Homo sapiens: one gene and its partners. The protein of the gene in region 1 purifies or fractionates together with the protein of each later gene. This does not show direct contact. Each region holds a gene or a part of one and is shown on either strand. Other genes may lie near its edges. The genes, in order: RSF1, WDR11 and RRP15.

Evidence for each region.
Region 2: the proteins of RSF1 (region 1) and WDR11 fractionate together in Homo sapiens (co-fractionation; one large-scale study listed by BioGRID). This does not show direct contact.
Region 3: the proteins of RSF1 (region 1) and RRP15 fractionate together in Homo sapiens (co-fractionation; one large-scale study listed by BioGRID). This does not show direct contact.

Annotation. Positions count from the first base shown.
Region 1 is NC_000011.10:77,659,489-77,663,856, reverse strand, and holds the end of RSF1 (remodeling and spacing factor 1), read left to right. Parts: 3' UTR 1-3,848; downstream 3,849-4,368. UniProt on the Homo sapiens protein: Regulatory subunit of the ATP-dependent RSF-1 and RSF-5 ISWI chromatin-remodeling complexes, which form ordered nucleosome arrays on chromatin and facilitate access to DNA during DNA-templated processes such as DNA replication, transcription, and repair.
Region 2 is NC_000010.11:120,885,809-120,889,462, reverse strand, and holds part of WDR11 (WD repeat-containing protein 11), read right to left. Parts: intron 3,650-3,654; coding exon 3,525-3,649; intron 2,775-3,524; coding exon 2,627-2,774; intron 386-2,626; coding exon 279-385; intron 1-278. UniProt on the Homo sapiens protein: Involved in the Hedgehog (Hh) signaling pathway, is essential for normal ciliogenesis.
Region 3 is NC_000001.11:218,305,678-218,309,331, reverse strand, and holds part of RRP15 (RRP15-like protein), read right to left. Parts: intron 1,902-3,654; coding exon 1,700-1,901; intron 1-1,699.

The DNA of each region.
Region 1 (4,368 bases):
AGATGTAGATTAATATTCAGTATATTTAGTTTGCAATTTCTGAAAAGGTTTGAAAACTAGTCAGCTTTTCACACAGCAGAAGCTTTGAACTGAAATATGTGTGAAAAGGACGCAGACTGAAAACGTTTTGGTTTTGTACATCAGTGCTGATGAAATTAGTGTAAAACATTTTCCATCATTGGCACATTACTGCAAAATGATGGCAGAGATATTTTCAAGAATGTACATCAAGTTATATTTCCTTGACATCCTTTTTTCAATTGGTCAAGGTTACAGATTCAGAGGATAAAGGGTAGTTTCATTTAGAATAAATTCATGTCTACTGGCAATCTATATATAAAAGTGACCTGCCCAAGAACCAAAAACTTTAAATGCTAATGAAGCTTTTGAAAAATAATTTTTAAACAAATTAATTTTAAAAGGGTGTTACACGTACCCAGTTTTTACTTTTTAGTTGATGAAACCCATCCTATAATATACATTTGAGCAAAGTACACATATTAAGAAAAACATGGACATTTACTTGTTTAATAGTCAAAATGATGAGGAAATGTTAGCTGTTTTTAAGTGGGACTGGTGGGGTGTCCTTTGTCACAAGGAATGCTTTTTTAGCTTGTTTGTGGGCATAAGAGATGTTAACCCTTTGCTGATTCTACCACACAACTGTAAAGAACCTAATGAATCTACAAGTTTAATATTCAGAAAAAGCTAGGAACTCCGCTCTTTACCAGTACAGTGGAACAGGCCCGTTATTCAAGGTGATGCCTCACAGCTATAGAACAACTATTCAAAGACCCAGAGTTAAATGGTACATGTGTATATGTGTGTGTGTGTGTGCACACGCACACACTTCAGATAAGTATCAGAAAAAATAAAAATGAATCCATCATTAACTTGAAAGAAATAAGATGGCTGCATTGCAACAGATACAAATATTATGAACATCATTTAATTACAGAAAATCTAGACAACAGTTTCTCCTGATGTTTGACATTCTCAAAATATATTCCTCATTCTCGAAGAAGCAGAGAATGCCAAGGCTGCATATCTGCTGTAATCTACCTAGCCCTCTTCTGCTTAATATGATCCATTATTGAATCTTCTCAGATTAAAATCCATTCCTATATCATCTACCTTTCCCAAAGTGTGTGCCTGTAAACCTACCTTGGAAGTGGCAAGTTAACTGATTTTTTTGTGTCATTTTTATACCAATCCTTAAGGTCAAAGCCTTTTGCTATCAATGTATTTAAACTGAGTTGCTATATGTTCACTAATTTGTTTTCAAAATGTTTTGCTCCAACTTAAATTATCTTTTAACATCTTTTGAGTGCCAAGAATTGCTAAGTAACTGTAATATGTTGAAGAGAGTAATTGCCAAGCAAGCAGTCATAAGCCAAAATGTAATGAGCTTAGTATATAACCACTTTAGAGTATACACTCACCACTTTTTGTATTCATTCATGCAAACCCTCCTGGAAGTCGATTAGAAGAGGATCCAATTTGTGGACCTTTTTTCCTCCTTTTGGACACCTGAGCACAATTTTTTTTTTCCTTTCATATTTATACCACTTTGGAAAATTCAGTAAACCCAATTCTGGCACATCATAATGGTTTCAGTTAGTGAAGATGTTTATTTTAATAACTTTAAAATATGACTATCCTATACATAAGTTATATAAGAGGGCATAACAATAGATGAGTAGAAATTTATAAAATTTCTTGGATATTTTGAATGAGAAAAAAACATTTTTAAAGGAATTTTGTTTTTTCCTTTTTTGGCCAAACCGGTACAAGTTAGAAAGTGTGCTAAGGACTGAATACTTGCCTCGTGCTTTTTGCCACTGGATGATGTAAGTTAAGAATGGAATTGTTAATCCTAAGTATATATTTTCTTGACTTTCATCAGTTTCTAAAGAAATCTAATTTAAGTGTTTTGCGGTTTTGTTTGATCTGTATTTATTGAGTTCTGGTCATAGACCAGCAGCTTGCACGTCATGCTCATGAACAGCCAGAACATAGTTATTGGGGAACTTCATGGCTCAAAACCTTCTGAATCATTTAACTTATTTTGTATGTTGCAAAAAAAAAAAAAAAGTTTATTTTGCTTGAGAGTCACCTTTTTTTAAAAAAAATAACTGTACAGCTTTTAAGGGATGGGAGGTGGGAAAATACCCTAAAATAGGATGTAGATTTTTTACAATTGTGTTTATGCTAGATCATCTACAGGTGCATTATGTAATTAAACCTAAAATTGTTTAAAAATTTGTGCCATGTCTTTTTCATTCTCCTGCCCTTTAGCAGAATTGGTGCATGTCAACTGCTATGTGGACAAGCCTTGAAATTAGAGTAACAAGCCCTGTCTCCAAAGCTTTAAGGTCACTGCATGAAAATTGCACACACACACACACACACACACACATCTAGCTTATATTAGTAAATGGATTTTCAGGATCAGAACAGCTACAGTAGCCCAGATTTGGCTGTTAACAGCATATTCTTACAGCACATGATTTTTGTGATGCCTAACTAGGGTATTCTCAATGTTAGTCTGGTGTTCTATTCTCTTTCAAAGTAGCTTCTTGAGATGGTATCTGTTGTAGCTTGCCCAAACCTGCCATGAGGTTGTGTGTACACTTTGAAAGGGTATGTCCTATGCTAAGATGGTGGTAGAGCAGGGCTTGATTTTAATCTATTCATATAAAAGAAGGAAAAAACTAGAATTGGTCTATTTGGTTATTCAGTGGACTTAATTCCACAGGAATAGTTGTCTGCTGAAGCGTGGCAGCAAGAGAAGTCAAATTCAAGTTTCAGTTCCTTCCTTATTCACTAAGTATTTTGAAATCTTGTAGAACTTCTGATTCTAGCACAGTCTTTTACATGGCACATTTTACCATGGTATATTCACAGCTTCGTTTAAATGTCAGTACTTTTTCCCATCTGATAATTTTGCCATTCTAATTTCTCACCTTTGTAGTACAAGTGTATTCTTGAAAATAATTAAATTCATCTAAGTGTGTCATAATTTCAATCAAAGCTATATTCATGTGTTGCCAGCGTCAGTTTTTTGCTATCCTCATTCAGAAGGGAAGCCTGCAGATCATGAGTTTCCATATGAAGAATACAAATTCCACATAAAAATTTATAAATGGTATCTTTAGAATTTTGATTTAAAGTAATAGCTGGAATTCAGGGACTGATCAGAATGCCTCTTGAATTTTCCAACATGCTTATATGAAATGCTTTATTTTCCTATGCGTTAAAAAAAATATTCCTGGAATAGGTTCTCAGAATGTTTTATTTGGTTTCTAGGAGATGAGATTTAAAGCAGAAGCTCCAAGATTGGCATAAAACTAACTCTTGAGGTAATCAGGACCATGCTGTTAGTCAAATAGAAGCTGGAGTGCTCTCTGTCACATAATGTACTGCATGTGTGTGGGGGTGGGGGGGCAGGGAAGATCAGAAAACTGGAAATGTAATTCTGATAACACGCAAAGTAAATTGTGCATTAAAAGTATGGGAATTCTTGGTAGCTTAAAGCTTCAGGGGTTAACTTCAGTGTATGAACACCTAGTGTGTTAGAATTGCAGTGCATAGTTGTTTAAATACAATATTCCTTGTAAGTGACAACCAAAATATGTTGTGGCTGGTGCCAGTATTTTTGTTAATGAAATGTTCAGTGTCTCACTACAGTCTGATCAGAACTCTTGGTGTTATAAGCCAGGCCTAAAGCCATTTTATAGCTATTGGCCTAATTGTGTAACTTTTTCTTTCAAAATGTTTTATTATAATACTTCTGTCATTTCTTTCACTTAATATGTCAATTGTCATAATAAAAATTTAAATTTGAATTATTTAGCATGATGTGTTTGCAAACTTAGCTTATTTTAAATTTTGTGGCACATGGAACAAATTGTCTGTAACAGTTCATGACGGTTAAAATTTATCACCCAGGCCTAGATGAATTGTTCTCCCGCTATCTAGAAAGTAAATTTGCAAGTGCATCAGTTTCCCTAAAATAATTTTTAAGGCTATTTGCCAACTAGACAAATATAGATATTAGAAAACTATTATTGATTTCTATATTTAGCCTCTGGAGAACTAACACATTATAGAGGCTGTGGACTTGTTCTGTGTGGTCCCATAAGAGCACAGAACTAGACCAGAGGACAGAAGCCATAGGGCAAAAGTTTTCCATTCATTCTATGGAGGAAGCTTAGTTCTCTAATAATAAACAAGCTTGGAAGTGAATTATTAGGAATAGGGGATGTTTGGGAGACCAAACATCCACACATTGATCCACGCCTTAAAAAATGGATTAAACCAAATGACTAACCGGTCCTTCCAACCCTGAGTAGGCTTCTCAGCTAC
Region 2 (3,654 bases), on another chromosome or scaffold:
CGAGACCATCCTGGCTAACATGGTGAAATCCCGTCTCTACTAAAAAAATACAAAAAAATTAGCCGGGCGTGGTGGTGGGTGCCTGTAGTCCCAGCTACTCGGGTGGCTGAGGCAGGAGAATGGCATGAACCCGGGAGTCAGAGCTTGCAGTGAGCCGAGATTGCACCACTGCACTCCAGCCTGGGCGACAGAGCAAGACACCATCTCAACAAAACAAAACAAAAAGATTTCATTTCTTTTTTTTAATGAAATAACAAGATTTCATTCTTGGCTTATACCTGGATACTCTGCCTTTCAAGTCCCAGAAATTTAAATTTCCATCCATATCTCCAAGCACTAATGTATCACCTTTCCAAGCGATGCAGGTAATACTACCCATACTTCCCTAGAAAACAACAGCAACAAACAAATATAAATTTCACTATGCTGTATAAGACATTATAATAAATATTTTAATAAAACTTAATTTAAAGGGCTGTGCTTTAGTATGCTTTTAGTCATCAAATCCTAAAACAGACTTTAGACACTAACAAAGAGCTACATTGCCTATCAATTTCAACTATGAAGAAATAGGAGATTTCAACTTCATAGACATTAAGTAGTTACTGGAACTAGATTTAAAGAGAGGGGATGTCTTTTGAGGAACAAATACCTCAAAAAAAAAAGGGGGAAATTAAAGTAAGAAAAACAGAGAAGTAAAGGGAAGGTTTTCCAGAGAGCCAACTCAAACTTATCTCTCACTGCAAAAGGATAACTAAATCCATTCCAAGGGAAACTTAAAGCTCTTTTATAACTAATTGTGCCGTGATTTTTCTATTGAAAAAAGGATCCAGAGCTTCACTGACACGTTTTGGAACATTGTGGAATCATGAAGGTGAAGAGATGCTGTTTACTAAAGGCATATGCAGTTTAAATTCACAGAAAGCTTTGCTCAGAAGTTACATATAGAAGCACAACATAAGAATGAAATGCTGCTGTAGTCAATCTAACTTGGAGGAAGAAAGGAACTTGCAGTTCTAATAGATGCTCAGAGGTGGTATCATGGAGGGCTCAGCAGCCTGGGCTCTGCAGTCACACTGCCTGGGCTTGAATCCCAGCTTGAAACTGGTATGTGATTTGAGGCATGTTTACTTAACCTTTCTGTCTTGGATTTATTGTCCATAAAGTAGGGTAAGTTCATGAAACTTGAGTTGTTGCTAGTATTAATAAATTTATAAAGGCAAAGGCCTTAAAGCAATGCCTGCCATGCAGTAAATAGTCAATACATGTTAGCTATTAAATAATATTACTGCTCAATTACTTCTCTATTTATTAAAAGAAATTTTATTTTTGCATTTATTGTACAACATAAAAATTCAAATGGTATCCATGGTAAAAAGTAAGAAAACTCTAGTGGTTTGAATAATTGACCATTAGTGGACTAGCACACACACTGAATACCGTAAAAACTCTGGTAATAGTCAAGAAACAAAACAAAAACTGGATTTAAAAATCAATATTATAATAAAGTCCATTAATAAAAAAAAATATTAAAGAAATGAAATTCTGTATATAATATGAAGCAACATTTTAAGATATCTACTTTCCTAGCCATAAAATAGAATGTTTAATTAAGAAGTTGCCTTTGAAGAGACTTCTGAAACCAGGTCATAATAGACTCTGCAACTTCCTTCTTGCTTTATCAGATCACTTACTCTAGGGGAGGCCAGTTGTCATGTCGTGAGGACACTCAAGCAGCCTTATGGAAAGATCGACATGAAGAACTAAGGTCCCTCGTCAACAGCCAGCATTAATGTGCAATAGCCTGTGAGGCAGCCAACTTGGAAATAGATCCTTCTGTCCCATTACACTTCAAAAGACTGTAGCCACAGCCAACATCTAGATTGTAACTTTATGAGACCCCAAAGCCACCTATAAAATTATGGGGGTTGGCATTCTACTAGAGCATTCCATTTTTAGATAGCAATTTAAAATAAATATACCTATTTTAAAAAATCCCCTCATGCCTTCATTTAACCATTATAATAGCCTGCATTAATTAACATAAACATTTTCATGATCCATCTATTAAAAACTATCTATGAGATGCATGCTGACACAAATGATTAATGGCAAAACTTTAGTTACAGATTCCACAAGGCCATAAGAATATATGTAAGTTAGTAAATGTTAATAATACTATTACACTTACAACCTGATTACTATTATCCAAAAATAATACTAGATTGTAAGTCAAATCCTTCAGGGTAATGCCTGAAATGGAAAGAAGACAGATACTGAAGTCAGACAGGCCTGAGTTTAAAACACTGCTCTGCCATATGAGTAAGCTGGATAACTTTGGGAAAGTTACTTATTCTCCCACAGTTTTGTTATGGGTAAAATGGAGATAACTCCTCATGGATTATTACAGGGATAAAAATGAGTAGCACACAGTAAACATTTAATCAAAATAGTTACAGCGTTATTCTCTAGCAGTATGGAACAAGTTTAATCGATAATATCTCCTTAAATAAAGTTTATTTACATTAGGCTTTTCTGAAGTTTCCAACTTAACTATGCCTTCACTGGATATGGAACCAACAAAACAAAATCTTCTTGATGAAGATTTAATCAAGGTTGTACTCACATCTGGTGGAATCCGAGCACTGTCTTTTACTGAGTTTCCTTCAACAGTGAGATGATACACTTGGCCATCAATATCGGTAAATACAAAATGTTCCCGGGCAGAGATGTTCTGACTAAGTTCAGATTTACTTTCTGCCTCCTGCAGCAAGCTTTGGGATAGTGAAACATATGATAAAGATGTTTTTTTTTCCCCTAGAGTGATACTCATAATTAATTAACTTGCCCAAAGTACAGACGCATTAAGAGGAGGTCCAAAACTATTTTTTTAAAAGTCTGAAACTAATATTTGCCCAGCTAATTATGGGTAAACATGAATCACTCCTTAACAGCCACAACATCAGAGGAAGTTTACCCTGCACAGAGAGAAATGGTGATCTAAACTTAACACAAGAAAAATAAAATTCATAGAGATTTTGGCTATAGAACTGTGCTCAACAGAAGGGAGGCTGTACAGTGACCCAACATTATCTCTGAAGCCTTTTATCTGTAAGATTGGTATGGATGGGGATGATACACAAATTTAGGATTCCCAACACATTTTCTTTGGTGTGTATAAATGATAATATGATCTATCTGTATGTCTATGCTATGTTCATTTGAATTTCAGAAGCTGAAGTGTATGGAGTAGAAGGGCACTCGGAATGAGCACATTTACTACTAGATGCTGATGGGTGAATATTACTGCATATGTTATTAGTTATAACAAACAGTATAGTACAATACTAAAAATGATAAAATTATCTTTTTAGTAATCTGGGTATGTACTGAAAGATGAAACTAAGTATGTTCAAAAGCAGAGTCCAACTTGCTACCATAGACACCTTCCGATGATACTTGTCAACTTCCCAGACATGATGCTAATGGCACAAATGACAGTGTCAAGAAACACTGTACTGTACCTGATCACAGATGATTCAACAATACTCAGCTCTGTGTCTGAGACTACGGTCTGGCGGGCCATGGCCTCTCGAGTTGCAAGTTGCTTCTTTCTCAGGCTCTTCAAGTTGTGAGATGGTGACCACTCCTGTA
Region 3 (3,654 bases), on another chromosome or scaffold:
AAACTCAAGCAAAATTTTTAAAAAGGAGTCTGTTTTTCCATAAATATGCAATCAACATGAAAACACACATTTTTAAAAGAAAGAAATATGTCAGGGTATTGATGGCATGGGGCAGGGTGTTCTAGAAACAAATTACTTTTAGAGCAAAATCACTTTGGCTTAAGTCTCAAGCAATTTTTGACCTTGTCCCAGACTTACAAATACTGTGATCACTGAAGTAGAAAAAAAGAAAGTCAAGGGCAAGTGCAAATGGTAAGAAAAAAATACAATGCCAGTGGAAAGAATCTGTTGTGTATTTTCATAACTCATGAAAGAAATAATCCCAAAGCAAAAGTATGTGCTTCTATAAAATGTTATTTTGAAACCAATAGGAAAAAGAAAAAAAACTAAGTCTCTTCATCTTCCCACTAGTTCTTTCCCATCCAATGTTGCTGAATCTTTCTCTAACTCTTACAGTAAAATGTTACTAGCGAGAATACAGCCTATTAAAGCCTTTGAACTAAAAAGTATAAATCCCCAAACACAGTGTTCATGTATTTACAAGTACTTCTGATAGACACTTTAAAATAGCAGCACTAGTGAGAACTATTATTATATAAAAATACAATTTGAGCCCTTTGATATTCAAGAAAGAGACAAGTAGATTCAAAAACTTTTGTCACTTAGGTAAAATATGAACTTAAGAAACTTTAAAAAATGCTCCAACCCTAGGCTAGCATAAAATTCCTAAATGCTCTTCTTGCTCGGGTTTCAATTATTTTCCCAAACAAAAAAATTTATGACAGAAATTCTCATTTCCTGACTGATTAAAAGTACCTTTGGTTTTGGCAACAGAAATCAAGCCATCAAAATATAACTACATATTTTGCTTTTTTAAAACGACAACAATAGAAACCCACCGCTTATAAAAGTAAAGCACATCTCAAAACCTTTCACCTGGTACATTAAAAAGAAATTACTGGCTGGGCTCGGTGGCTCACACCTGGAATCCCAGCACTTTGGAAGGCCGAGGCGAGTGGATCACCTGAGGTCAGAAGTTCAAGACCAGCCTGGTCAACATGGTGAAACCCCGTCTCTACTAAAAATACAAAAATTAGCCGGAGGTGATGGCATGTGCCTGTAAACCTGGCTACTCAGGAGGCTGAGGCAAGAGAATTGCTTGAACCTGGGAGGCGGAGGTTTCAGTGAGCCGAGATCGCGCCACTGCACTCCAGCCTGGGCCAGGGAGCAAGACTCCATCAAAAAAAAAAAAAAAAAAAAAAAAAAAAAGAAAGAAAGAAACTACTGAGGCAGCTGGAGAAGCAAAGTTCTCATGCCAAAGGTCATAGAAAGTATTTATGCTCTTAATCTCTCAACCAAACATCACTAAAGATGCCTCAATGCAAGAATGACTTTCTACCATTATTTCCTAAAACTCTCTGACTCTTCATATTTTGTAAGTTACACACCCTCTATGGGTAAAGTCTGAAATTAAAGCTGTGGCCCACACAGGCTTCTATTCTCCAAAATGTGCAAAATGGCAGGATTTCAGATAGGAGAGAGGCAAGCCCTATCTCTAAAGGTTGCGGGCATGGAGGAATTTTAATAAAATTTAGGAAAAAAACACAAAACTCTGTAATTCTATAGTCTGGTTTTCCATCTCAAGACTAGTTTTAGAGCTGAAAGTCTGATACACTGAATCCTATAGAAAAGTTTTTACCTGTTTGGCTTTTGGTTTCTTCCTGCTTGAAGCAGTCTCATTTGTACTTCCATCCATCCCTCTCAAAACACTGATGAAATCTTTCTTGGAAACAGTTGATATCAACTTAGCACGCTTTCTCATAGAACTTCCAGCTTCCTTAACCTTTTCATCAACATTCTTTTGATGTTTCTGAACAGCATTAAATAATTGCACCACACCCCTGTAGAATATAAAATGACCAGAATGATGTATTAAATAATTACCCTAGAATACAAACTCTGAGGATAGGAAAAATGTATTTTCACTGTCTAGAAAAGAGGCAAGCATTTAACAAGTACTCAAAGGAAAGAACGGGATAAGTGGTTAAATACATTTGATAAATACAACTGAAAAATGAATATACATTTCAATGAATGAATATAAATTTCTAAACAGATAACAAATGTGGATTGGTACATAACTTTGTGCTTCACTCCAAGAAAGATTTTTCTGGATCTCAATTTCATCTGTAAATTGGAAAAATAATGCCTCAGTAGCTTAAAAAGTATTTAGCTACGTTATCTGCAACTCTTGTGTTATGAAACCATTGTAAAATCCTACTTTAAAAAATACTTATTTTAAAAACTATGTTCTGTATTTATTTGAGTTCATTCAAAGATAAATTCTGAAAATTAAGACCTGCAGCATCCAATACAGGAGCCACAAGCCACATGTGGCTAGTGAGCACTTGAAATGTGACTGGTCTGAATTGCCATGTGCTGTAAATGAAAATACACCAGATTTCAAAGACTCAGTATGAAAAATAGAATCCTTAAATATCATTAATAACTGCTTCATACTGACCACATGATGAATATTTTGAATGCAGAGTTAAATAAAATATTATTGAAGTTAATTTCACCTCTTTCATTTTATATTTCTCATTGTGGCTATAAGAACATTTTAAATTACATATTAAATTACAAATGAATGTAGCTCACATTCATTTCTCCTGGATAGCGTTGATTTAGACTGTTAAGATCCCTTCCGGCTCTAAAATTCTGCAATCTATGAATTTTCTTGCTCTAATAAGAGGCAATCTGCCTCTTCCAATAATTATTGGGCCTTGAGCATCCCTGCATATGGTTGCTGGATTTTTCAAGAATGAATGCACCTGACTGCTCTTTATCCAGGCCATTTCTCAGGGTTGTGTTTGTAGGTAGTGACCTTGAGGGATGAGGTAACATCTCCCCCCGACAAAGAGCAGGCTTGTTACCAATCAGTATAAAAGTGATAGAATCCCAAGCACAGTGTTCCAGTTCTTGTAACACAACATATTGCACATGCGGGCATCCATCTAGGACACCTGCACTCCCTCTATGGGACAAAGGAAACAGTGGGAACATGAAGCTCTGCTACTGTTTTTGCCATGAATAATAAAGTCCTTTGTCTTTGATCCAAAGTGTCTTGTCTTCTATCAGCATCCAGGAAACTTTGACAGGCTAGCTTATGAGCTTATAAGGAGAGTAAAATTCCAGACCCTTCACAGTAGTGACAGGACCAGGGTGAGGAAAGGGAGGCGCCTAGGACATAAATTTTAAGGAGGCACTCACTCTCATGTACTGAGCCTGTACTTTTCTAAGTTCTGTATATGTATTAATCCATTTAATTATCAAAGAAACCCTATAGGCTAGGTATATTATCCTCTATTTACAGATAAACTGAGAGAAAAAGAAATCAAGTAGCATGCCCAGGGACACACTGCTAGTAAGAGCCAGTACTACGATTTGAACCGAGCACTGGCTCTATCACTCATGCCCTTATTCACCACACCACGCTATCGCACTGTGTAACACCGAGATGGATTAGAAAATGACCAAAATAATTTAGGTAACAAGAATTTAAAAGTAATTCTGCTAAATATAACTGCTAGGTTCTTTAGCAGCAGCCCAAATGTTATCTCCTCTGTAATGCCTTCTCAAACTCTCCCAGAC